7 linked regions of the Homo sapiens genome follow. The protein of the gene in region 3 interacts with the protein of the main gene of each other region in a biochemical or structural test. Each region holds a gene or a part of one and is shown on either strand. Other genes may lie near its edges.

Evidence for each region.
Region 1: the proteins of PLCG1 (region 3) and RHOA form a complex in vitro, tested with the Homo sapiens proteins (one study listed by BioGRID).
Region 2: the proteins of PLCG1 (region 3) and CD244 interact in a biophysical measurement, tested with the Homo sapiens proteins (one study listed by IntAct).
Region 4: the proteins of PLCG1 (region 3) and ERBB4 form a complex in vitro, tested with the Homo sapiens proteins (one large-scale study listed by BioGRID).
Region 5: the proteins of PLCG1 (region 3) and PLD2 form a complex in vitro, tested with the Homo sapiens proteins (one study listed by BioGRID).
Region 6: the proteins of PLCG1 (region 3) and NPM1 form a complex in vitro, tested with the Homo sapiens proteins (one study listed by BioGRID).
Region 7: the proteins of PLCG1 (region 3) and FLT1 form a complex in vitro, tested with the Homo sapiens proteins (one study listed by BioGRID).

The regions. Positions count from the first base shown.
Region 1 is NC_000003.12:49,363,477-49,366,976, reverse strand, and holds part of RHOA (transforming protein RhoA isoform 1 precursor), read left to right. Parts: intron 1-3,500. UniProt on the Homo sapiens protein: Small GTPase which cycles between an active GTP-bound and an inactive GDP-bound state.
Region 2 is NC_000001.11:160,852,888-160,856,387, forward strand, and holds part of CD244 (natural killer cell receptor 2B4 isoform 1 precursor), read right to left. Parts: intron 1-3,500. UniProt on the Homo sapiens protein: Heterophilic receptor of the signaling lymphocytic activation molecule (SLAM) family; its ligand is CD48.
Region 3 is NC_000020.11:41,161,543-41,165,042, reverse strand, and holds part of PLCG1 (1-phosphatidylinositol 4,5-bisphosphate phosphodiesterase gamma-1), read right to left. Parts: intron 2,592-3,500; coding exon 2,507-2,591; intron 2,402-2,506; coding exon 2,318-2,401; intron 2,086-2,317; coding exon 2,051-2,085; intron 1,841-2,050; coding exon 1,768-1,840; intron 1,666-1,767; coding exon 1,564-1,665; intron 1,329-1,563; coding exon 1,210-1,328; intron 1,123-1,209; coding exon 1,037-1,122; intron 963-1,036; coding exon 842-962; intron 111-841; coding exon 1-110. UniProt on the Homo sapiens protein: Mediates the production of the second messenger molecules diacylglycerol (DAG) and inositol 1,4,5-trisphosphate (IP3). Plays an important role in the regulation of intracellular signaling cascades.
Region 4 is NC_000002.12:212,532,303-212,535,802, forward strand, and holds part of ERBB4 (receptor tyrosine-protein kinase erbB-4 isoform JM-a/CYT-1 precursor), read right to left. Parts: intron 1-3,500. UniProt on the Homo sapiens protein: Tyrosine-protein kinase that plays an essential role as cell surface receptor for neuregulins and EGF family members and regulates development of the heart, the central nervous system and the mammary gland, gene transcription, cell proliferation, differentiation, migration and apoptosis.
Region 5 is NC_000017.11:4,817,152-4,820,540, reverse strand, and holds part of PLD2 (phospholipase D2), read right to left. Parts: coding exon 3,282-3,389; intron 2,540-3,281; coding exon 2,435-2,539; intron 2,245-2,434; coding exon 2,156-2,244; intron 2,048-2,155; coding exon 1,934-2,047; intron 1,768-1,933; coding exon 1,718-1,767; intron 1,458-1,717; coding exon 1,323-1,457; intron 1,113-1,322; coding exon 959-1,112; intron 1-958.
Region 6 is NC_000005.10:171,397,849-171,401,348, reverse strand, and holds part of NPM1 (nucleophosmin), read right to left. Parts: intron 1,197-3,500; coding exon 1,139-1,196; intron 511-1,138; coding exon 424-510; intron 1-423. UniProt on the Homo sapiens protein: Involved in diverse cellular processes such as ribosome biogenesis, centrosome duplication, protein chaperoning, histone assembly, cell proliferation, and regulation of tumor suppressors p53/TP53 and ARF.
Region 7 is NC_000013.11:28,488,629-28,492,128, forward strand, and holds part of FLT1 (vascular endothelial growth factor receptor 1 isoform 1 precursor), read right to left. Parts: intron 1-3,500. UniProt on the Homo sapiens protein: Tyrosine-protein kinase that acts as a cell-surface receptor for VEGFA, VEGFB and PGF, and plays an essential role in the development of embryonic vasculature, the regulation of angiogenesis, cell survival, cell migration, macrophage function, chemotaxis, and cancer cell invasion.

The sequences.
Region 1 (3,500 bases), on a different chromosome or scaffold from region 3:
TTTGTGCTGAAGATGATGAGGTATCTATTAATAAACTTGTGCTGCAGCCCTCCCTGTCATGACAGGGCAGCAGGTGGGTCAAGGATGTTGTCGTCATTACCACAAACAGCCTTTGAGGGTCTGCTTGTGGCCTCGGGTTGCCTGGATAGTTAGTGTTAGAGTGATTGTGTTGTTATGGTTGTCCCTACCTTAATGATGATAACTGGGGTTGCTCCAAGATATTGAGCCACTTGTTTAAGGTCATGCTGGCCCAAGGAGCTGAGCTAAGATTGAGTCCTCTGTGCAGTATGTCCCAGGACAGAGAAAGAGCACGTATTCCATGCCGTTGGTTCACTTAGATCATTTTCAGCAGTTATGATTGATTGATTGATTTAGAGGCGGGGTCTCGCTCTGTTGCCCAGGCTGGAGTTGAGTGGCACAATCTTGGCTCACTGCAACCTCCGCCTTCCAGGTTCAAGCAAATCTCCTGTCTCAGCCTCCCAAGTAGCTTGGACTACAGGCATACGCCCCCACGCCTGGGTGATTTTTGTATTTTTAGTAGAGACCGGGTTTCTCCGTGTTGGCCAGGCTTCTCTCAAACTTCTGACCTCTGGTGATCCACTCACCTTGGCCTCCCAAAGTGCTGGGATTACAGGTGTGAGCCACCACACCCAGCCTAGTTTTGGTTTTCAAACTAATATGACTTCCTTTTGTGAAGCTGCTGGAAGGCCCTGGAGGCTGGGCAGAGCTTTAGGCCACAGAGAAAATTTGAGCTAGTTGACACTCTCCTATCAGATACACACATAAATAACTTCACCTAGATCCTATTGGAATGAGAAGGACTGTGTGCCTTTGCCCTCGTTATCTAGTGTATAATTCTTGAGGGAAAAAACTGCCTCCAGAGCAAAACATTTTGTCTCTTCAGTCTCACTTTTTTCTTTTTGAGACAGGGTCTCGCTTTCTTGCCCAGTCTTGAGTGCAGTTGCAGATTCAGTTTACTGCTGCCTCGACCTCCTGGGCTCAAACAATCCTCCCATCTCAGTCCCCACCCAGTAGTTGGTACTACAGGCACACACTGCTGCGCTTGGTTAATTTTTATATTTTTTAGGCCGGGCATGGTGGCTCACGCCTGTAATCCCAGCACTTCGGGAGGCTGAGGTAGGCGGATCACCTGAGGTCAGGAGTTCGAGACCAGCCTGGCCAACATGGTGAAATCCTGTCGCTACTAAAAATACAAAACTTAGCCAAGTATGGTGGCATGTACCTGTAATCCCAGCTACTCAGGAGGCTGAGGCAGGAGAATTGCTTGAACCTGGGAGGCAGAGGTTGCAGTGAGCCGAGATCGCATCACTGCACTCCAGCCTAGGTGACAGAGTGAGACTCTTGTCTCAAAAAAAAAAAAAAAAAAAGTTTGAAAATTTATTCACCAAAAGTGGCGACAGTCAATTTATTCAAATTCTATGTACCTCAAACTCCAGGAAGGGGGTAGACTATTGGTATAATTTCACATATTCAGGAAATAACTACAGCACCTACTAACAGAACATCTATTCTAGGCCAGGCACTGTGGCTCACACCTGTAATCCCACCACTTTGGGAGGCCAAGGTGGGTGGATCCTGAGGTCAGGAGTTCAAGACCAGCCTGTCCAACATGGTGAATCCCTGTCTCTACTAAAAATACAAAAAAATCATCCGGGCGTGGTGGCGAGTGCCTGTAATCCCAGCTACTCGGGAGGCTGAGGCAGGAGAATTGCTTGAACCCGGGAGGCAGAGGTTGTAGTGAGCTGAGATTGCGCCACTGCGCTCCAGCCTGGGCGACAGAGCAAGAGTCCATCTAAAAAAAAAAAAAAAAAACTTCTGTTCTAGATGAGGGAAGACAGAATAGGCTCCCCTCAATGCCCCCAAAAAAGTAAATCAGAAAATAACAACAGTAAACCCAGTAACAGTAAATATTACAAATAACATTTGTAGAGGTGGGTCATGGTTGTATGCTGTTTTGTTTTATTTATTTTTATTTTTGTTTTTTTGAGACAGACTTTTGCTCTTGTCACGCAGGCTGGAGTGCAATGGTGCGATCTCAGCTCACTGCACTCCGCCTCCCGGGTTCAAGCACTTCTTCTGCCTCAGCCTCCCAAGTAGCTGGGATTACAGGCATGCACCACCATGCCTGACTAATTTTTGTATTATTAGTAGAGACAGGGTTTCAACATGTTGGCCAGACTGGTCTCAAACTCCTGATCCACCTGCCTCGGCCTCCCAAAGTGCTGAGATTACAGGCCTGATGAGCCACTGCACCTGGTCTATTTATTTTTATTTATTTATTTATTTATTTATTTTGAGACGGAGTCTCGCTCTGTCGCCCAGGCTGGAGGGCAGTGGCACGATCTTGGCTCACTGCAACCTCCACCTCCCTGGTTCAAGGAATTTCCCTGCCTCAGCCTCCCTAGTAGCTGGGATTACAGGTGTGCACCACCATGCCCAGTTAATTTTTTTGTTTTGTTTTGTTGTTTTTGAGACGGAGTTTCGCTCTTGTTGCCCAGGCTGGAGTGCAATGGCACGATCTCGGCTCACTGCAACTTCCGCCTCCCGGGTTCAAGCGATTCTCCAGCCTCAGCCTCTCAAGTAGCTGGGATTGCAGGCATGTGCCACCACGCCCAGCTAATTTTGTATTTTTAGTAGAGACGGGGTTTCTCCATGTTGGTTATGCTGGTCTCCCAACTCCCGACCTGAGGTGATCCACCCGCCCCGGCCTTCACAGTGCTGGGATTATAGGCATGAACCACTGCGCCTGGCAATCTTTTTGTATTTTTAATAGAGATGGGGTTTCACCATGTTGGCCAGACTGGTCTCGAACTCCTGACCTAACGCGATCCACCTGCCTCAGCCTCTCAAAGTTTTGGGATTATAGACGTGAGCCACTGCGCCCAGCCTATTTATTTGTTTTTAAGAGATGAAGTCTCACTTTGTCACCCTGGCTGGAGTGCAGTAGTAGCGTGATCATAGCTCACTGCTACCTTGAATCCTGGACTCCAGTGATCCTCCCACCTCAGCCTCTCAAGTAGGTGGGAATGCAGGCACATGTACCACTGTAAACTGCTAAGTTTTTGTATGTTTTTGTGGAGATGGGGTTTTTGACTTTTTTGATACAGAGTCTCACTCTGTTGCCCAGGCTGGAGTGAGTGTAGTATTGCGATCTCGACTCATCACAACCTCCACCTCCTGGGTTCAAGTGTTTCTTCTGCCTCAGCCTCCCAAGTAGCTGGGACTATAGGTGCACACCACTGCGCCCGGCTAATTTTAGTAATTTTAGTAGAGATGAGGTTTCGCCATGTTGGCCAGGCTGGTCTCGAACTCCTGACCTCTGGTGATCCACCCACCTAAGCCTCCCAAAGTGCTGGGATTACAGGCACGAGCCACCACGCTGTCTGGAGATGGGGTTTAGCCATGTTGCATAGGCTGTTCTTGAGCTCCTAGGCCCAAGCTGTCTACTTGCCTTAGCCTCTCAAAAGTGCTGGAATTAC
Region 2 (3,500 bases), on a different chromosome or scaffold from region 3:
CAGTGCACACCTGTAATCCCAGCTACTTGGAAGACTGAAGCAGGAGAATCACTTAAATCTGAGAGGCGGAGGTTGCAGTGAGCCAAGATCATGCCATTGCACTCCAGCCTGGGCAACAAGAGTGAAACTCCGTCTCAAAAAAAAAGAAAATCTGGTGTTTATATCCACTAAAAATATGTACAAGAGTGTTAATAATGGCTTTAGTCATAATAACTCAAAATGAGAAAAAACCCAAATGTCTATCACGATTAGATGAGCAAATAAATCGTGTTATAGTCTTATAAGGAATATTACACAGCAATGAAAAAGAAAAGCTACTTTTCCTGGCAATAATGTGGATGGATCTCACCACAATGATGAGTATTAATGAAGCTAGACTCCAAAAAGTACATAGTGAATTATTTCACTGATATAAAGTTTAAAATCTGGAAAAACTAATATATGGTGAGAGAGGTTAGAATGTGATTACCCTTGCAGGAGGGGGGTTATCAACTTGAAGGGCCAAAAAGGAATGACTGGGTGCTAGAAATGTGTTACATCTTGATGTGGGTAGTTTTGATATGTACTTACACATATAAAAGTTCATCAAGCTGTTGATTTAAATTTTGTGCACACAGCTGTGAGTTGTATCTTGGTAAAAAAGCAGAAAAAGAGTAATGACTACCTCTCACTCAACTGTTCTGACTATTAACTAAGATGTACTTTGATAAAAGCAAAATATGACTTGCCCATTGTGGAAACATTACCATAGCAAGTGAATTTGTAGATTTCCTCACTCATCTCAGCTAAACCCAACTCTTAGCTAAATATCAGAAAAGCCTGGGAGGCAGGGGTTGCAGTGAGCCATGACTGCACCACTGCACCCCAGCCTGGGTGACAGAGCAAGACCCTGCCTAAAAAAAAAAAAAAAAAAAAAAAAAAGTGAAAAAGGAAGATAGACCTAAAACAGCCAACTGAAATGCAATATGGAATGTGCTATGGAGGTGTGCCCAGGGTGTGAGGCAAGCATAAGGAAAGCATGTTTTCCTCTGCCCTGCAGAGTTAGGAGTGGCTGCCCAGAGGCGGTGGGTGGGAGCTGCCATTGAAAGAAAAAGCCAAGGCCTGCCTGGTGTATGCAGAAAGGAACAGGGAAGGTGGGTATTATGGACCCAGCAGTAGCATGGTTAAGGGAACACAAAACACACGTGTGGCTTATGGGTCTGGTAAAGATGGAGCAGGTTTGGAGAATGGGGTGATGGAACATGAGTTTAATTTTCAGGTGTTTAGTGGTGGTTTCACTTTATTTTTATCTTTTATAAAATTGTGAGAGGTAGCACAAGTATTAAAAGGTACTTAAATATAAATATACGGTGTAATGAAAAATAACGTAAACTCCCATATAATCCACCAGTAGATCAGAATGTAGAGCGCTATGTAGAAGAAGGTTGTTCTCTGCTATTATAAAACTGAATAGGAATCACACAGGAAAATGGTTAAGTTATTGTCTAGACTTCTTTGTTTGTTTGTTTGTTTTAAGACAGAGTCTCGCTCTGTCACCCAGACTGGTGTGCAGTGGCATGATCTCGGCTCACTGCAATCTCTGCCTCCCAGGTTCAAGTGATTCTCCTGTCTCAGCCTCATGAGTAACTGGGACTACAGGTGCCTGCCACCACCCCCAGCTATTCTTTTTTTTTTTTTTGTATTTTTAGTAGAGACAGGGTTTCGCCATATTGGCCAGGCTGGTCTTGAACTCCTGACCTCAAGTAATCCACCCGTCTCAGCCTCCCAAAGTTCTGGCGTGAGCCACCACTCCCAGCCATAGACTTCTAAATACTTAAAGAATGAAATGTGTGATCTACAGTCCTCATGCTATACTGCCTTTGGGGTCTTTTTAAAAATTAGGCCGTTATATTTTATTTTTATGTAATATTATATTAGTTTATACATTTAAGACTGGTTTGTCTGCAAATAAAAAGGAGCTAGAGAGAACACCAGGTGTTGTTTTGATTTTTCAACTGGAAGGAAACTGTACTAAAGGTAGGAAGCCCACAGAAAAGGAGCAGCTGAAGAAAGATGAGGGATGTCTTCACAGACAGCAGGTCCCAGGTGACTTCTGAAAGAAGCTCTGGTGCCCTGAGCACACAGGGGAGTATTGGTCAAGGACAGGGCAAGAACACTCTTGCCCTCAGCAGAGGCAAATGTGGCCATTTACAGGAGTAGATGAAGTACATTGACACTGGAGACTTGTTGGCAAGGTTGGTGGAATCCCTAACTTGTGCTTCTGTTTTCTTAAAGAAGGAGGTTGTTGGTTTGTGGAGGCTGAGATAGTGGAACAGGGCCTTGAAAGAGATGACGAAGGTGTGGAATTCTCCCACCTTTTGGGGAACAGGAGAAGCTGTGGGCCAGAAATGAGGATTCCCAGGACACTGAGAGTCCAGCTGGGGTTGGAGATTACGAATCTGTAGCTGCTCTTTGTTGCTGAATTTTCTCCTGCAGCCCCCAACAGTCCAGTGTGGGAAGGAGGAAGATGGTTGGAATGAGTTTCCATGGACGGCCTGGAAGGGGTGGGTGCCAGGGCAGGGGTGCAAAGCAGATACGGTGAAAAGGCAAGTAGACAAGTCACTATGTCCAGGGTATTGTGACTGATACAGAAAGACCTCAGTTTCTGTCCCAGAGGGGTACACACACCAGATAGGGGAGATGAAATGCTACTACGAAAACATAACTTCAACACAAGTTCTCACACATTTAGTGAGGCATAGAGGAGGACCCAACAAGTGAAAATTGTTTAGAGGAAAGAGGCCACAGTCCAGGAAGGCCCCCGGGCCCCTGCCACTGCTGTTGCTACTGCTCAGCAGCTTTGGGGGCCACCTTCCTGTGGTTAAGAACGGATGAGGTGAACTAGTAACTCTGAAAGGGAGGGCAGAGGGCAGATGATTAACTCCACTGCAGCCTCAGGAAGAACAGAGGATGGTCAAGGAGACAAGTACAGAGGATGGTGAAGGAGACAATCTGATCCAGCAGTGAGTCCCGCTCAGCCCTGAGCCCATGTGCAGAGCTCTGAGTCAGCTCAGCTTCCTCCAACCTGGACCTGCCAGTCGGAGGAAGGTGTGGGGCCTGAGCACCTGGGAGAAGGAGCACGGGAGGGTCTCAGAGCAAGTGGAATTTCCACCAGCCAACAAATAGATGTTAAGGTTTTCTCAGCTAGGGCTTGTGCTACCAGGCTTGGGGTGAAGGCATCAAAAGATGTACCTGCTGGGGACTAAGTGAACAGAGTCCAGTGAGATTCCAAAAGTACTGGGGCAATCCAGCTCTAGTCAGGGCAAAATCATAAGATAGATAAAGTATCCTATAGGGCCCACATCCCATTTCTTTCTTCCTCTCTATTTAGCTTCATACTGACCATATTAACTCTCTTCCTCAGGCAATGCAACTCCCTTACCTCTGTCAAAACTCACCTAGCCCAAGTCCCACTCTTTGCATCAGTTAACCAAATCATCTCATATGTGATATTGTTTCTC
Region 3 (3,500 bases):
CCACGGGCTTGGTGAGGAGTGTGTCCCCCAGCACCTTCTTGAAGTATTGGGCCATGTTTCTCTGCTGGGCAATGCTGCAGTGGTCCTCAATGGACAGGATGACTGGGTACCTGCGGGATGGGGGACAAGCACAGTGAAACAGATTCTGCAATTCTCTGGGTCTAAGTAGCCCCTCACAGTGAGCTGTTGGAAGCCAAGGGCCTGGGGGCTTCTTGTCTGTAAAAACTATCCCAGAAAAGAGGCAGGCCATAGCCACTGGTGGGGCAGAGAGGGGTTCTACAGCTGTGGCAGCAGTGGAAACCAAAGGGTGGCAACTGATGCAGTCCCGAGCTGGCCCAATTATGGAGGCTGCTCAGCAGTGCAAGAAAAATGTTTCACACCAAAGAGGCCAGGAGAGAGGAGAAGCCTCCAAAGTTAGCTGTTAGAGCCCTGGTGAGCTAAGGGAGACCAGTGACCACAGTTTAAGCAGTAAACAGAATTGAAGGAATGGGACACAGGGAACAGAGACAATCTTCTGGGCTGTGAGGGCAAAGGAGTTGGCAGGACACTGGCCTAAAGAAACCAGGGCATGTTTTCTGAAGATGAGAAGAGCATGTGTTCTACAGTCTAAAGGACCCATGAAGAAGAGAGTGGGCCCAACACGTAGGAAACAGAAAGTGTAACTTGGGAAGCAACAGCTCAAGCAGGGAGCAGGTGACGAGGAGAGGCCAAGAGGAAGGACAAAGATGAAAGGCTGAGGGAGAGGGGACAGGGCATTTGAGGAGTCTTTCTGCCCTCTGTCCCTCTAGAACGAGAGACCTGGAGCCAAGTTAACCCCTGGGTCATCCAGCCTCCGACTCACTCTGAGGCCACAAAGGCATGCTCCTTGATGGTGTGCAGGACATCTGAGAACTTGATCTTGGTGGTAAGGGTGTGCCCATGGTAAATAACTGGCATCCCATCCGGGCCGTCCCAGCAGTCCACTGGGGAGCAACATCACCATGGTCAAGCGGGCAGGCCTCCCATCTTCCCTCCCCCAGCCCTGGACCCCACGCACACTCAATGCAGCGACAGCCCATCCGCAGGCAGCGAGCATAGGCTTCCAAGGAGGACTCACTGGAGAACTGGTCCCCGGTCAGGTACCTGGATAGGCAAGGAGAGGCAGGTAGGTATGGTCAGATGGGCCCTCCTGGGGAAGAAGCTGGGTGGGCCTGAAGGAGCCACACTCACGTGTTGTGCGAGGAGGAGATCCAGTAGTGGGAAAGAGGGTTGTTCATGGTGTCCGGGCATACTGCATCCAGCTGCGAGTTCCACACACTGTTCTCTTTGGAGAACAGGAAGGTGACAAACTGTCCAGAAACATGTGGAAGGGAAGAGACAGTGAGTCCCTGCCCTGTCCAACCCAAGATGGTAGGTTGGGGGTAGGAGAGAGAGTGCTCTGTCCCAACTGGGGGTGGGCAAGGTGCACAGTAGGTAGAAACAAGGTGGCATCCCTAAGGAGCGTCTAGCTCCTGGAGCCCGGGTGGGGTCCTGGTCACCCCTACTCATTCTCTTGACAAAAAATGGGTGAAACATCGGGCTCACCTCATCCAGGAAGAAGTATGGCTCCTCGATCTCTCGTAAGGGGTCTCGGAGGAAGCTGAGCATGAACTCCTGCACCTGGAGGCGATCAACAGCCCACAGCTCCTGATGGGGTAGGGAGGGCAGGGGATGAGAGAAGCCTCCAGTCAGGGATGAGCCCAGCCCCCCACAACCTACCAGCCTGGGCCAATGTCAGCCCAGCCATACCCCCTGGTAGTCAAGAAGGAACTGCTGGAACTCAGGAAGGGACACTCGGCAAAGCTCCGGCCGCTCCCCAGCCCTGCAGGGAGAGAAGGTAAGCTAGCTAGTATGGTCAACAGACAACAAGGTGCCCCACGGAAGGCAGAACCCAACTCCCAGCCAGCACAGCTTCCCAGAATGGTCCAGCATGGTTCCCTACTCCCACTGCCTCCCACCTGGATCAAGAATCGCCCAGTGGAGAGATGAAGGGGGCCCAGGGAAAACCCCACCTCCCCACTCCAAACCAAACCTCAGAGTACTGGCTTCCAAGAAGGGGAGGTCCATCTGCAGGAAACAGAACCTGGTCAGGGCAAGACCCCTGGGAGGCCATGTGGGAAATGGGCTAGTAAGAAGGCAGGCTAGAGCAGCAGATGGGGGCAGGCCTCAAGAGGAGAAGAACTGGAGAAATGGCACCCAAAAGCCCCTAAGCAGGGCAGCAGGGCTGAGGCAGGCAGAGCTGGGGTGTGGGGTGGAAGAGCAGGGGCAGGGGTTGAGGGAGGGCAGGTGGCTCATGCACCGTCTTCTGGGCGCTGTACATGAGGCTGCGGTACAGCTGAGCAAACTGCCCGTAGGTGATGTCCCCGCTGCGCTGCTCCAGGTCCTGCATGGTATAGAGCAGGAGTGCCAGTCAGGCAGTCAGGCCCCCAGCTGAAGGGCTCTTGGCTTCCCCTGCCCCCATCTACAGACAGCCCTGGGTGGCACTTACCGTCAGCCGCTCTCGGAGGAAGCGCATGTTGGGGACCCGGTAGTTGACCTGGGACAGCATGTTCTTCAGGTCCTTGGCTGATATACTGAGAAAACAGGGACATCCCCAGTGGTCTCATCCAGCTTCTCATGACCTCTGACCTGTGGGTCGAGCCCACCTGGGGCTGGACAGGTAAACAACACTATTCTGGGAACCTGGAGGCCTGAGGGCAAGACTGGATCAGAACCCATGGGGTGAGGTTAGTCCCTTCCTTTCTTTGGACCTCAGTTCCTCATCTGAGCAAAAAAAAAAAAAAAAAAAACAAAAACAAAACAAACAAAAAAAACCTGTAATTCTGGCAAGGAAGATGTGAACAGATTCAGTAAAGTGGGTCAGGCATGGGAGGAAGAAAAACCACACTCCAGGCCTCCCCTCCTACCGGCACTGCTGAGGCCTGTGCCAAGGTGGCAGTCAGCCTATCCAAGACAGAAGGCAGGGCTCACTCACAACTTCCCTGTTGGGGGCAGCATGGCAGCAGGTCCCTACCTGCTGCCCACTGGGATGCTGGGAGTTTGGTCCTCAGAACCCACTAACCCATGAGAGGGAGGAAGGAGGAGGTGCATGCTCCACCAAATACAATGACTGGCAACTGGGCACCTCCTGGGGCTAGACAGGGCCTGGCTCCAGGAAAGAAACTGAGAGAACAAGCGCCCCTGCTCTCCAGGGGTGTCCTGCCCAGGATGTGAGGCTGGGGACACTGCTGGACCTGGCAACAGGATGGACAAGAAGGGGGAAGGGGGGGGCTTTCTCTCCTGGAAGGTGGTGTCAAGGAGGGGAGGGGAGGGTGGGACCACCTCCTCTGGGCCCCAAGAGCCTGGGAGGAGGCACCAAAATTCCCCGAGGGGGCTGAGCGCCACACTGAGTGGATCAAGCACTGCGGAGGGAGGGCTGGCTCTATATAGGCGCCCCCTCCTCTGATCCTCAGTCACCCAGGAGGTAGGTGCTATCAGGGTCC
Region 4 (3,500 bases), on a different chromosome or scaffold from region 3:
GTGAAAGGAAAGTGAGGGAATGTCAACGGCAGGGGCCTCAAAGCTGCCTCCTCCCTGCAGCTTAACTACACAGCTCTCTTTTTATTTTACCCTTTCAGCTGTTTTAGAAACTAGGGCTATGCCTATGACTTCACTTGGAACAACAACAACAAAAAAGAGGTCCACTTACAAAAATAATTAAAAACCAATAAACTTTTTTTCTAAAAAGTCTAAACTTTCCATTTCTAATTAATTGAATTATTAAAAACATTCAAGATGTTAATAGCTTAGGCATGACTTTTAGCTACACTAATAAAGGTAAGGCGATTGAGACAGAAGCAAGTAGTCTAATCCCAGATCACATAACAAATGATTGTATGACCAGAATCCAAACCTCCTAACTTTTAGTGCTTTATTCGCTAGCATCACACAATAGCAAGGCTGTTGCTGTACTACCCACAGCTAAGGCATGCACTATTCCTATTAAAGTCTATGTGGCTGCTGCCCCCTGGAGTTGTGCAAAGTGACAGGCCTGCAGAACAATTCAAAATGGAAATAACTCTAAAACAATTATTACATGCTACATAGCCTCTTTAGAATTAGTTAACAAAACATCCACATATTTCAACTCCATATTGTAAAAGGGACAGCTTTCCTCTCTTGAAAAGTTTGTATAAATATAAAGCACTAGTTTAAGTATCAAGTGTGAAAACAAGGAAGTGGCCTTAAATCTTGATTACAGAATTGGAAAATACGGCAATTTATTTAATAAATATTTCAGAATAACCAACAACTCAGAAAAAATAAAAGAGACCATAGAACAATTCTGAAAATAATATTTTGGGGAAATTGCCCTCAAATACAAATGCCTTTGAGTTAATAAGCTCTTTATTTCATTAGACAGGTACTCTTTTGATAGAGACAGTTTGCTAGAAAGTTTACATTATGTTTCTTAATATAGGTATACATGTTTTAGATTACATGTGCAATTTAGATTACATCTATAAAAACAATTTAGTGGAATGTATCTCAATATCAAAGACTTTAAAGTTATTTTCATAAAACTGTACAGTGCAGAAATAGTGCATTATATGCATTTCTCTCCCAGGCAGAGAAGCCAAGTCACAAAGAGATGCAGTGAGTTGCTGAAGGTATTAAGAAACTCGAGAACTGTCTCTGCAAGGTAGAAATCCTGATTTAAACAATGTGACTACGTCCCATGTCCCATTTAACCACAAAATAGGCAATTAAAGTCTCCCTCAAATTATGTTGAAGACATACAGTTTCAGGAAACATTGACCTACAATTTTTTCATAAAAAGGGGTTATTTTTCATTATAAACTGAAAACTCCAGTCAATAGCTGTATTAGAAATCATAAAAAGTAAGGTTTTAACTCTGACTGCCAATATTTATAATACTTCAGAAAATGAGTATTAGATAAAACATGTAATTTGGTTCCATATGGTGAAATGTAACATAATAGAGCATCTCTAAAATGATATAACCTGGAGAAAAGTTGTTAATATGATTAAATTCTACCCTGCACAGGATACTCAGTAGATCACTGTAAAAGATAACAGTGGAATATGCTTGGTGATTAATTTCTGTAGAACAGATGTAGGCTTGAACCTCTAAAAACTAATTTCAGTACAAATATTAGCATCTCAACAAAGCAGTATCTCTCAAAACTGGTAAAATTAAACAGAGCAAGTACCAACAAGTTTGTAGGTATCAGAAAATCCGTTTTGATCATTTATTTCATTTATGTTTTAGGCACTTACAAACTATACATGGATATCCAACAGTAGCAGAACACTATAATATAAAGCCAAAACTTATGGCTATTTTTAAGAACATGTTAACTTTTCCTAATAACCAGCTTGATATAACACAAAAATAATACCGCTTTAAAGCATTGCAATGTTTAAGCCATCCTAATTCAATTTATTGTCTAAAATATGCACTGTGCATAGCCATTAATCTCAAGGTGGCTCTAATCAAGCTTCCAAGAGTACTTAGAAAGAGCACAATTCATTGCCTCACTAGCATTTTTTAAATAGCAGTGGTCCACCTTCCTTCCTTGGTCAAGAGGGGAAAAGAAAGAAAGAAAAAGGGTAAGAGGGACTTCTCTGTGGAAAGGTTTGGCCTTGGAGTCAAGGCTTTTAAGATGTGCCAGTGATCTTGGATCGATGCCTTTTTATTTTCTTTCAGGAATAAATCTGAGCAATGGAATGGCTTGTGATTGTCTGGCCAACCAGCCATATCAGATTTATCAGAAAGAATGAAAACTGGCTCAGAGGACTCCTGCAGTGGCTGAGTGGCAGGTTACTGGGAAAGACACAAACAAAAACAATATACTTAGTGGCGGAAGGGAAAATATATATTAACACATGTAAACTCAATAAATACTAAGATGTAAAGAGAGAATCTATAGTAACAGAAAGGGTGAATGCATAAGACAGATGATAAATAGTACTTCTATTTAAAAACCAAAGGGATGAAAGCTCATGAATACTACATATTTGAATCCACTTTGAGGAGGAAATACGATTTTCCATCAAATAAATGCAAACTCTAAAAATCAGCCAATGCAAACTTACTGTGTTCAGGTTAGAATAAAAAATGCATAAATCTTCCACAAAGTTCATGCTCTGATAAATATTCTAATGTAATTTCTTAATTAAGACACATTTCCAGTGACTAAATGAAAATATATATATAAAGCAGTAAGTGCCTTGATTTTCAACAAAATTTCACTTTCTATGCATACATGATTAAAATAAATAAAAGCAGTTGAGTTTAAGAGCAAAAAAAAGGAATACTGATATAACTGGAGTCATTTCATCACAACAGAACAGTTATAGTATTTCCAAGCGATTTGCAGTTATACTAACAGATATTTATTTAGACATATTGTGAAGAAAAAAATAACACCTTCTTCTAAAAAGCCCCCTTTTATATATATATATATGAGAATTTCAAATTAAAAAGAAAACATTGTACCGATAGATGTGCTTACAGTAAACACTTGTAAGAAAGAGAATTGATGCTTTCTTGAAAATATATTTAACACCTTTTTCACCACTTAACTTTTATTAACATTTTTCTTCTCAAATGAAAAATAACCCCATGATTTTGGAGATATAATGATGTATCTTAAATATGTACGAAAGCTATATGTACTTTTATAGAATGAAAAGCAAGACTGAGTTACCTGCAAAAAAGAAATGGGAACTGAACTTGTTCATCGTTTATCTACTAAGGTATATAAGAGTACCACCTCAATGCTACTATACATTTTCTTCAATACCAAGGCAATATTGATAATTTTCCATTATACAAGGAAGACGAATTTTAGAACCATTCCTTTGGTTAGCAAAGGCTTTATAATTGCCATATAAAGGGACTTTGGCTATATCTAGATATATCTAAATAAAATGCATAATTGAAAATGAGACAAAGTCCTTTAGAATTTCTAAAAAACATCCTCTCTAATGCTGAATTTTTTTCCAAGCAAAAG
Region 5 (3,389 bases), on a different chromosome or scaffold from region 3:
TCATGCCTGTAATCCCAGCACTTTGGGAGGCCGAAGCCTGAGGTCAGGAGTTCAAGATCAGCCTGGCCAACACAGCGAAACCCTGTCTCTACTAAAAATACAAAAATTAGCTGGGCGTGGTGGTGGGCGCCTGTAATCCCAGCTACTCCGGAGGCTGAGGCAGAAGAATTGCTTGAACCCAGGAGGCGGAGGTTGCAGTGAGCCAGGATCGTGCCATTGCACTCCAGCCTGGGCGACAAGAGTGAAACCGTGTCTCAACAACAACAACAACAACAACAAAAAAGATTTCTTTTTCGTGGCCAGGTGCAGTGGCTCACGCCTGTAATCCCAGCACTTTGGAATGCTGAAGTGGGTGGATCACCTGAGGTCGGGAGTTCGAGACCAGCCTGACCAACACGGCGAAACCCCATCTCTACTAAAAATACAAAATTAGCTGGGCGTGGTGGCGCATGCCTGTAATCCCAGCTACTCGGGAGGCTGAGGCAGGAGAATCGCTTGAACCCAGGGCAGAGGTTGCAGTGAGCTGAGATCTCGCCATTGCACTCCAGCCTGGGCAACAAGAGCAAAACTCCGTCTCAAAAAAAAAAGATTTTTTTCTCTTTTTGTTTTTTGGTGTTCCTGCTTTACTGATACTCTAAACTGATTAGTCCTAGTAGCTGGGATCACAGGCGCCCGCCACCACACCCAGCTGATTTTTTGTATTTTTAGTAGAGACGGGTTTCACTATGTTAGCCAGGCTGGTCTCAAAATCCTGACCTCAGGCAATCCACCCGCCTTGGCCTCCCAAAGTGCTGGGATTAGAGGCGTGAGCTGCCGCGCCCAGCCTTGCCTATTGAGAATCTAGTACTGCCTCTACCTCTGGCTCCGGGAGTACCTATGCGGTGCTACCTCTTGTCCTGCTCAAAAGGCAGACGCCCCCATCTCCCTCCCACCCTGTGGCATCCCGCCCCAGCTCTACCCGAAGCAGTGCTTCCGCAGACTCAAGGCAAACCTGCCCGCCTGATACTCTGCCCCATTCATGAGGGATGGTTCCGTCTCTGTGTCCTCGATCAGCACGGCCAGCTCACTGTCCCGCTTCCCCAGCAAGCTCCGGTCATTGATGTTTGCAGAACCTGGGGTGGATGCGGGGCACACTGTGTGCTTGGGCCCAGGGCACTCTCCCCAGTACCCCATCCCCTCTACCAAAGCACTGGCCTGCAACATTCCTTCTTGGACCCTCCACCCCTACACGAGCCTCAGCTGCAGTCTCTGTCATCCTGCCTCTCATCTCTTCGCCTGTCCCCACACCCTCTCCCTGCCAGAGGACTAGATCCGGCACTGACCAATGATGACTGTCCGGTCATCTGCGATGAGCACCTTGCTGTGGATGTAGATGAGCTCCGAGACGGGGTGCCCGCCCAGCTCTCCGTGTGTACGAAGCCCGCAGATGGAAATATAGTCCCGCCATGCTGTCCCCACTGCGTGACAGGAGGGGAAGTGAGGTGAGAGGTGGCTCTGTGTGCACAGGGCCCTGTCCCACCTCCTCTCACTCCAGAAACTCTTCCTACATAGAGTCTGGTCTCTCTCCTTCTCCCTGCAGTGAAAGGCCAGCTATGGTCTGCGTAGCGTCAGAGGCTCACAGGAGTGACAGCCTCCTTCCCCCACCCCCAGGCCTGCAGCGCCCCAATCTCCCTCTCCCAGGGGCCCAGGGCTTGAGCCCCCAGCCCCCAGCACTCACTGGCTGCTTTAAGGCGATGCAGGATTGAATACTCCCCACGACACAGGGTCCTGAGAGAAAAGAAAGAGGGAGAGAAGTGGAGGCTGGCAGAGGGGAGGGGAGGTCAGGAGAGGTGGCCCTTCTTTAAGGCCCAGCAGGAAGGGATCAGGACAGAATCAGGAGGGGGACACGGGTGGGATGGGGCCACTGAGAGCTGGAGTCCGCCTGGGGGGTCACCTGTAAGTAAAGTGCAGAATGGCCTGGATGGAGTTGCCACCGCCCGTGGAGATGTCACCCTCGAAGCCAGGGAGTAAGGGCAAAAGCACGTAGACTCGGTAACACCACCCCTGTCTGGGGAGGGGGTGGAGTCAGAGGTGCGACTGGTCCCTCAAACCCCACCCCCTTCAACCGGGCTCAAACCACACCCACAGTCCCCACCTTCCTGACAGTCCACCTTACTTGTGGGCCTTCAGGATTCTGTCCACAATCTCATCGCCCACCTTGTTCAGAACCGTCCGCCCATCTGAGCAGCTAATGAAGAACTGATTCTGGGGCAAGAATCAGAGACAGACATCAGCAGCCTGGCCCCTGGCCCTGTCCTCGGCCTCCAGCCTTGGTCCCAGGCTCCAGGCGTCTGCTTCTGCTCCACCAGCCCTCAATGACTGACTCCACTCATTCCCCAGGTCTCTCTCCTGGGACACCCCTTCCATGCTCTCCCCCACCTCCTCCCAGTCAGACCTCAATGTAGAGGAAGTGCTGGCTCTCCCTGATGGTGTGCAGGTAGGCATTGAGGATGGAGTTCTCCAGAGTCCCTGCTGACCAGCGGTCCACTGATCGCAAGACCTAGGGAATGGTGAATGCGATGTGCTTCATTTCTTTTCTTTTTTAAGACAGAGTCTCGCTCTGTTGCCTAGGCTGGAGTGCAGTGGCATGATCTCCGCTCACTGCAAGCTCCTCCTCCTGGGTTCACGCCATTCTCCTGCCTCAGCCTCCTAAGTAGCTGGGACTACAGGTACGCACCACCACTCCCGGCTAATTTTTTGTATTTTTAGTAGAGACAGGGTTTCATGGTGTTAGCCAGGATGGTCTTGCTCTCCGGACCTCGTGATCCGCCTGCCTCGGCCTCCCAAAGTGCTGGGATTACAGGCGTAAGCCACTGCGCCTGGCCTTTTATTTTATTTTTGAGATGGAGTCTCACTCTGTTGCCCAGGCTGGAGTGCAGTGGCGTGATCTCAGCTCACTACAACATCCTCCTCCTGGGTTCAAGCGATTCTCCTGCCTTAGCCTCCCTAGTAGCTGGGACTACAGGTACGCACCACCACGCCCGGCTAATTTTTTGTATTTTTAGTAGAGATGGGGTTTCACCATGTTAGCCAGGATGGTCTCGATCTCCGGACCTTGTGATCCGCCTGCCTTGGCCTTCCAAAGTGCTGGGATTATAGGCGTGAGCCACCGTGCCTGGCCGTGATGTGCTTCTTAACCCCAGGAAAGGAGAGTGTGGGCAGCTCTCACACCAGGGAGAGTGGGTTGGGGTGTTAGGCTGAAGGAGACAAAGGGGAGGGCTGGCTGAAGTGGGGGGCCTCACCTGTACGGTGGTGCACTGCCCTCCTGGAAGTGTGAAGGGGAGCTGATTGGCCGTGCTGGTAGACTTGGGAAGCAGGTAGGGGTATGTGGGAGTCTTGTACTTGGCCTT
Region 6 (3,500 bases), on a different chromosome or scaffold from region 3:
GGCGGAGTCTCGCTCTTTTGCCCAAGCTGGAGTGCAGTGGTGCAATCTCACTGCACTCCACCTCCCAGGTTCAAGCAATTCTCCTGTCTCCACCTCCTGAGTAGGTGGAATTACAGGCACATACCACCATGCCTGGCTAATTTTTGTGTTTTTAGTAAAGACAGGGTTTCACGATGTTGGCCGGGCTAGTCTCAAACTCCTGACCTCAGGTGATCCCACCCACCTTGGCCTCCCTCCCAAAGTGCTGGGATTACAGGAGTGAGCCACTGAGCCTGGCTGCAGCAAGCTGATTTTAACTTTTAAACAGCAATTACAGGGGTTCTATAAAGGCCTATCAAATTTCAGACACACTAGATTCTTCCACAGTAGAATCTTTTTCCCCAACTAGATCAATGAGACCCACGTGTAAATGTAGCCACTTACTTTTGATCTTGGTGTTGATGATGGTTTTGAGTCTTTTCCATTCTGATTTGACTTTTGTGCATTTTTGGCTGGAGTATCTCGTATAGACTGCAATTAGAAATTTATCTTAATCACTGTCCCTGACCCCAACAACAGTGCAAACAAAGCTGTCCAAGCCATGTAAGACAAGCAGCAACCACAGGCTTGGCGTGGTGGCTCATGCCTGTAATCCCAGGACTTTGGGAGGCCGAGGCAGGTGGATCACGAGGTCAGGAGTTCGAGACCAGCCTGGCCGACATGGTGGTCTACTAAAAATGCAAAAATTAGCTGGGTGTGGTGGCATGAGTCTGTAATTCCAGCTACTCAGGAGGCTGAGGCAGGAGAATCGCTTCAACCCGGGAGGCAGAAGTTGCAGTGAGCTGAGATCGCGCCACTGTACTCCAGCCCGGGTGACATTGAGACTCCGTCTCAAAAAAAAAAAAAAAAGGAAGGAAAAAGCAGCAACCACTTGGACAAAAGGTTACACAAGACTAACAAACTGGGTGGAGGGCCACATGGATAAAGAAAACAGACCATTCCCCACTCTTAAGTTTTCTGTAATCCTCCTCAGGACTAATTTTCAGTATGAGATGATCTCCCACACCAGCTTCCCTTAACTACAAAACAAGCAAATAGCACTAAAAAATCACCATTTCTATTGTTAGTTTAACAACCTTGTAGCATTGTATCTACTCACTTTCTTCACTGGCGCTTTTTCTTCAGCTTCCTCATCATCAAAATCATCATCATCATCACTACAAATGAAATGTCAAGACATTAAGCACTTTCAAAATTTGGGAGTAGACACAAGAATTGAAAGCAGGACCTTGAAGTGATTATTTGTGCACCCATGTTTATCGAAGCATTGTTCACAACAGCCAAGAGGTGAAAGCAACCCAAGTGTTAAATGACTAAATGAAAATGTATATGTACACACAATGAAAATCCTCTTGCATGCTACATGACTGAACCTTGAACAAAGTGAAATAAGCCAGCCACAAAAGAACAAACACTGTATGATTCTATTCATTAAGTATCTAAAAGTAGTCAAACTCAAAGAAATAGAAGGTATAATTGTGATCGCTAGGGGCTGGGAAATGAAGTTGCTCAATGAGTAGTTTTGCATAAATACACACTATACCACTGTATAATGTATGTATATTTAAGTAATGTATAGTTCTATTAAACTGTACACTCAGAGTGAATTTGTGTTAAAAAAAAAAATTAAAGACCTAAATAGAAACATTCCATGTTCAGATATTGCCAAGATGGAAACACTCCCCGAATATACAGGTTAAATACAATCGTTAGAAGACTCCCCAAGCTGGTTTCTCTGTAGAAACAGATCCTAAAATTTATAAACAAACCCAAGAACTGGCACAGTGTCTCACACCTATAATCCTAACACTTTGGGAGGCTGAGGTGGGAGGATCGTTTTAGTTCAAGACCAGCCTAGGCAACATAATGAGAACCCTCTCTACAAAAAAAATTTTTAATTAGCAGGCGTGGTGGTGTGCGCCTGTAGTCCTAGCTATTTGAAAAGCTAAGGCAGGAGGATCTGCTTGAGACAGTGAACTGTAACTGTGTAATTCTGCCACTGCACTCCAGCCTGGGTGACAGAGCAAGACCCTATCTCAAAAAACAAAAACAAAAAAGACACTTAAGGGACCCAAAGAGGCCAAATGCAATCTGGAAAGGAAGAAAGCTAGAAAACTCACACTTGATTTCAAAAAATCAGCTATAAGACCTACAAAGGGGCCAAGGCACCGTGGCTCACGCTTGTAATCCCGGCACTTTTTAGGAGGCCGAGACGGCCAGATCACCTGAGGTCAGGAGTTTGAGACCAGCCTGGCTAATGGGGAAACCCAGTCTCTACTAAAAATACAAAAATTAGCCGGGCATGGTGGCGGGCGCCTGTAATCCCAGCTACTCAGGAAGCTGAAGCAGGAGGAACCAGGAGGCGGAGGTTGCAGTGAGCCAAGATCACGCCACTGTGCTACAGCCTGGGTGACAGTGAGACTCATTTCAAAAAAATAAATAAATAAAAACCACAGAGGAACAGTGTTGTACTGTTCTTACATGTTAAGGATAGACACATCAACAGAACAGTCCAGAAACAGTGATTTTTTTGTTTTTTGAGGCGGAGTCTCGCTCTGTCGCCAGGCTGGAGTGCAGTGGTGCAATCTCAGATCACTGCAACCTCTGCCTCCCAGGTTCAAGCGAATTCTCCAGCCTCAGCCTCCTGAGTAGCTGGGACTACAGGCACACGCTACCATGCCCAGCTAAAATTTGTATTTTTAGTAGAGACAGGGTTTCACCAAATTGGCCAGGATAGTCTCAATCTCCTGGTCATGATCCGCCTGCCTCAGCCTCTCAAAGTGCCGGGATTACAGGTGTGAGCCACCACACCCAGCCATAAGTGACTCTTTTAAAGGTTGCCAAGATCATTCAATGGGGAAAAAATAGTTTTTGAACAAATCATGTTGGGGCAACTGCTAATCTACATCCAAAGTCTATATTTAGACCCCTCCATTCACACCATACACATAAGTTTACTCAAAATGGAACAAAGCCCTAAATATAAAGGACAAAACTCAGAATTAAGGGGGCAAATTTTCACAACTTTGAATTTAGCAATGATTTCTTAGGATTGACACCAAAGGCACAAGCAACAAAAGAAATCGGACGTCATAAAAATTAAAAACTTGTTCAAAGGCCACCATCATGAAAGTTAAGTAACAATTCACGGAATGGTGGAAGATAATCTGTAAATCTTGTGTCTGATAAGGGACTTGTTTGCAGAATACATAAAGAATTCTTGGGCCCAGTGCAGTGGCTCACGCCTGTAATCCCAGCACTTGTGGGAGGCCGAGGCGGGCCTGACCTCAGGAGTTCAAGACCAGCCTGGCCAACATGGCGAAACCCGGTCTCTATTTAAAATACAGAAAATTAGCCGGGCGTGGTGGGGGGGGTGCCTGTAATCCCAACTACTTGGGAGAGGCAGAAGAATTGCTTGAACAAGGGAGGAGGAGGTTGCAGTGAGCCAAGATCACATCACT
Region 7 (3,500 bases), on a different chromosome or scaffold from region 3:
GGGATGGGGGTGAGGATAGGGAGGCACCAGCTCGAGCCCAAGCCATGGGATTCCAATTTTTAAGAACATGTCTCGCACCTAGCAGGGTAGTCCTGCCAGGAACCCATTTATATGAAGGGTTGAGGAAACCTCATCCTAAAGAAAGAGGAAGTTAGACAGACCAGTGTGGTCCTGTAACCAAGGCCCCTATTAAAACAGAGTTGATTCTGACTGTGGCCAGACCTCTGTCATTCAGGTATGCATCTCAGCCCAGCACCCAAGGACTTGGGTTTAAGAGAGGGCAAGAAAGTCAAACCCTAAAATTTGAGGACTCTGTTCTCTCTAAAAATTGTATAACACGCTGCAGGAAAAGGCTGAGGTGCTTAGCACCTCACCAACAGAGGCTAACACAGGACTTCTGCAGTGACCAGAGCCTGGCTTTGGTGGCTCACAGGCCCCAGCGAAGCATCATGCCCACACAGGAGGGGAGGACATGAGACAGTTTCTCAAAGAGTTGAAAATCATAGCTGATCTCATACATCTCAATCGCTCACTGAAGAGGACAAATATTATCTGTTGAGAACAGTTACTTTAAGTAATCCCTTGTAAATGAGGCCAAATGAACAGGCAGGAGCACATTACTATACTGGAATAAACTCATGGAATAAATTTGTGTCTGAGATTGCTTCTGCGAAATGATAGTGTGGCCACATATTCATTCATTTACTCATTCGTTCCAACACTTACCGAGAGTCTCTGTACTAGGCTTTATATTAGGTGCCAGCGGTCTAAGGACAGCTAAGACATGGGGTCTCTACCAAAGAGAAAGGACACAGACACATAAAATCCTGACAATGCAAAGTGAGAATTACTGAAGGAGGAGTACACCTCAGGGCTACAGGAGAGCAGAAGAAATGGCAAGTGCTGTCTGGGAGCTACAAGGAGGAGCTCCCAGAGATGGTGATTACTGGGCTGGATCTTGCCAGCAGGAGAGGAGGAGACACAGAGGGAGGGAAAAGGTCTTGCAGGCAGACGAGCAGCATGAACAGAGTGATGAAAGTGAAGGCGCCTCTGAAGAAGGGGGAATAATTTGTTTGACTAGGGTAGAGTTTGTGTAGCTGGAACCCAGTGTGTGTGTGGAGAGAAGTGGCGAAAGACAAAGCTAGTACCATAAGCCACAAGTATGTAAGCCACAGCTGTTCAGGAAAAGGATACCAAGTGCTCGTAAGGAAAGTTAATCTTCTCATCAAATCTCTTGGCATGCTACTAAGCAGCCATCATTTTGATTCTTAGTTTAAACCCCTTATGTGCGTTAAGAAAATAGAAGAAAACTTCATATTAAAAAGATGTCATTTCGAAAGAAATTTTAGCACTGTAATAATGTTAGTCAATAAATATTTGAACATCTGTCTTCCGTCTGGGGAAGAGGAAATACACCAGTGAAGAAGAGATGTTGTCTGTAGCAGGAACATCAGGTTCTGTTCCTAGGCCTGCCGCTAGCCAGCTGTTGACCTTGAAAAACAGCACTGGCCTCCTCTGGGCCGGTTTTCTCATCTCTGGCATGAGTAGATTGGGTCAATGAGGTTCCATCTAGCTCTTACAACGTGTGTGTGTATCTGTGAGACAAGATCAAGTTCCTCAAAGAGCTCAAAATTGAGGAAAGGAGCAGCAATCAGAAACAGCTTTCAGGCATCCAGCTTTACCAAGATGGATGGGAAATCCCCAGGAATTCTTGACATCTCCCCACATCCGCCCCAGCGGCAATGCAGGAAATCTAGTCCACTATCTTCAGCAGACTCAATGCAACTGTTTCCTTAATGAACCCCCCTGCAGCCCCGTGAGCTAAGTCAGAGGCTTTCTTTTCAAGCCCTCCCTCAAATACCCCATTCCTCCAATTTCCTTCCCCTCCCTCAATCTGGTATAAAATCCAGCAATTTAATCAGCAGCATGCAATTTCCACAGCACCCAAGAGTGTGAGGAACCACCAGTGATCCTGGAAAGCATCTGGCAGGAGATCTTGTCATTTCTTACAAGCCTCTCCTATAAACGAAGGCCAATGGAGCAGAATGGACTGTTCGGTTCTACCAAATTGCTTAAACCAAATGCCACAGATGGTCTATACTTTTAACTACTCACAGTAATATATTTTTACTTAAAAAAAAGTCTGGTATGATTTCAAATGCCCTTCCTCCCCTACCTGCAATGACAAATGCACTGAAAAATGATGATATTTACTTGATACCCAACACACCCCTAACTGTGAGATCCAAACCAAGAATTAGACACGCCTGGCCTCTACTAACACCAGCAGGCTTCGCATTTAACATTCACGTGCCAAGATAGCTTCTCTCACTTTTTCTCCATTCTTATCCCCACCCACATACACATATCAGTTTAAAGCACTACAGAAGCTACTTACTCTGTTATTTGTTCTTGTCTTGCCCAACTGCCCAAGCCAGGTCAAATATCAGCCATAACTCTGCTGTGTAGATCTCAATAGGCTGCATAACCTTCCTCGAGGACATTACATTATTTTGGTCAATATGAAACCATTTTTTGGTAACACATCACCTTCAACTTCCATATTAAATAAATTTAAAGTAGACTTAGAAATGTCTCGATCATTTTTGGAAAGAACAAAGTAATTACTTGGTTTGTTTCTTAAAAGTCACGTAAAGTAGACTCAATTTTAAATAAGGGGTTTAGTATCCCTGTTAAAATCTGGAACTTTTTTTAAAAGAATAAAGCCATTCTGTTAATCAAATAAGTGTTAGCTTTAAAAATTCAAGAAATAAATAGGGGTTTAAAATGACTGCTATCCTTAGAAGAGTTAATGCAACTAGAGTTTTGAGGGAGCATCTACTTTATAGAGTTATACATTCTGCTAGTGAAAAAAGCCCAAGATAAAGATGACTGCTGGCTCAGGCATCCTCTACCAGCCCATCTCTTCCAAAACAGCCTATTCAAGGCCAAATTGACTGGCTGTTTAGGTACATGCTACTAAAGAAAAAGAAAGTTTAATGTGATTAGCAGGGGAAACCCAGTTCATCCTAACAGCCCCAGCATCATATGGTTTCTCATCCACTCTATATACAAATATAAATAAGGTGGGGAAGAGAAAAGAGAAAGACAGACACGGTGTTCAGGCCATTTCTTGGAATCATTCATTGAATTTTGGAGTCAGAAAAGGGCCTTAGAAATCAACCACCTATACTAACGTCTTCATTTTACATACGAAAACAAAGTACCCACTTGGTGATCGTTAGAAAAGAAACCAGATAGCCTATTATAGAATGTCCAACAGGGAAATTTTAAAAATGTAACAAAGTGCTAAAATAGTAAGCAACAATATTTGAGGAACTGGAGTAAGTAGTCACCTACAGTTCCTTTGTAACATGATGCTTCAGTTGGAAAACTGTAGGCTGCCAAAGCTCCTAAATAATTAATATTTCGAATATGCAATTTAGACCAAAAAAAAGTGCAGCTTCATAAAACCTTGGAGAAAACAACAAAAATTGTTA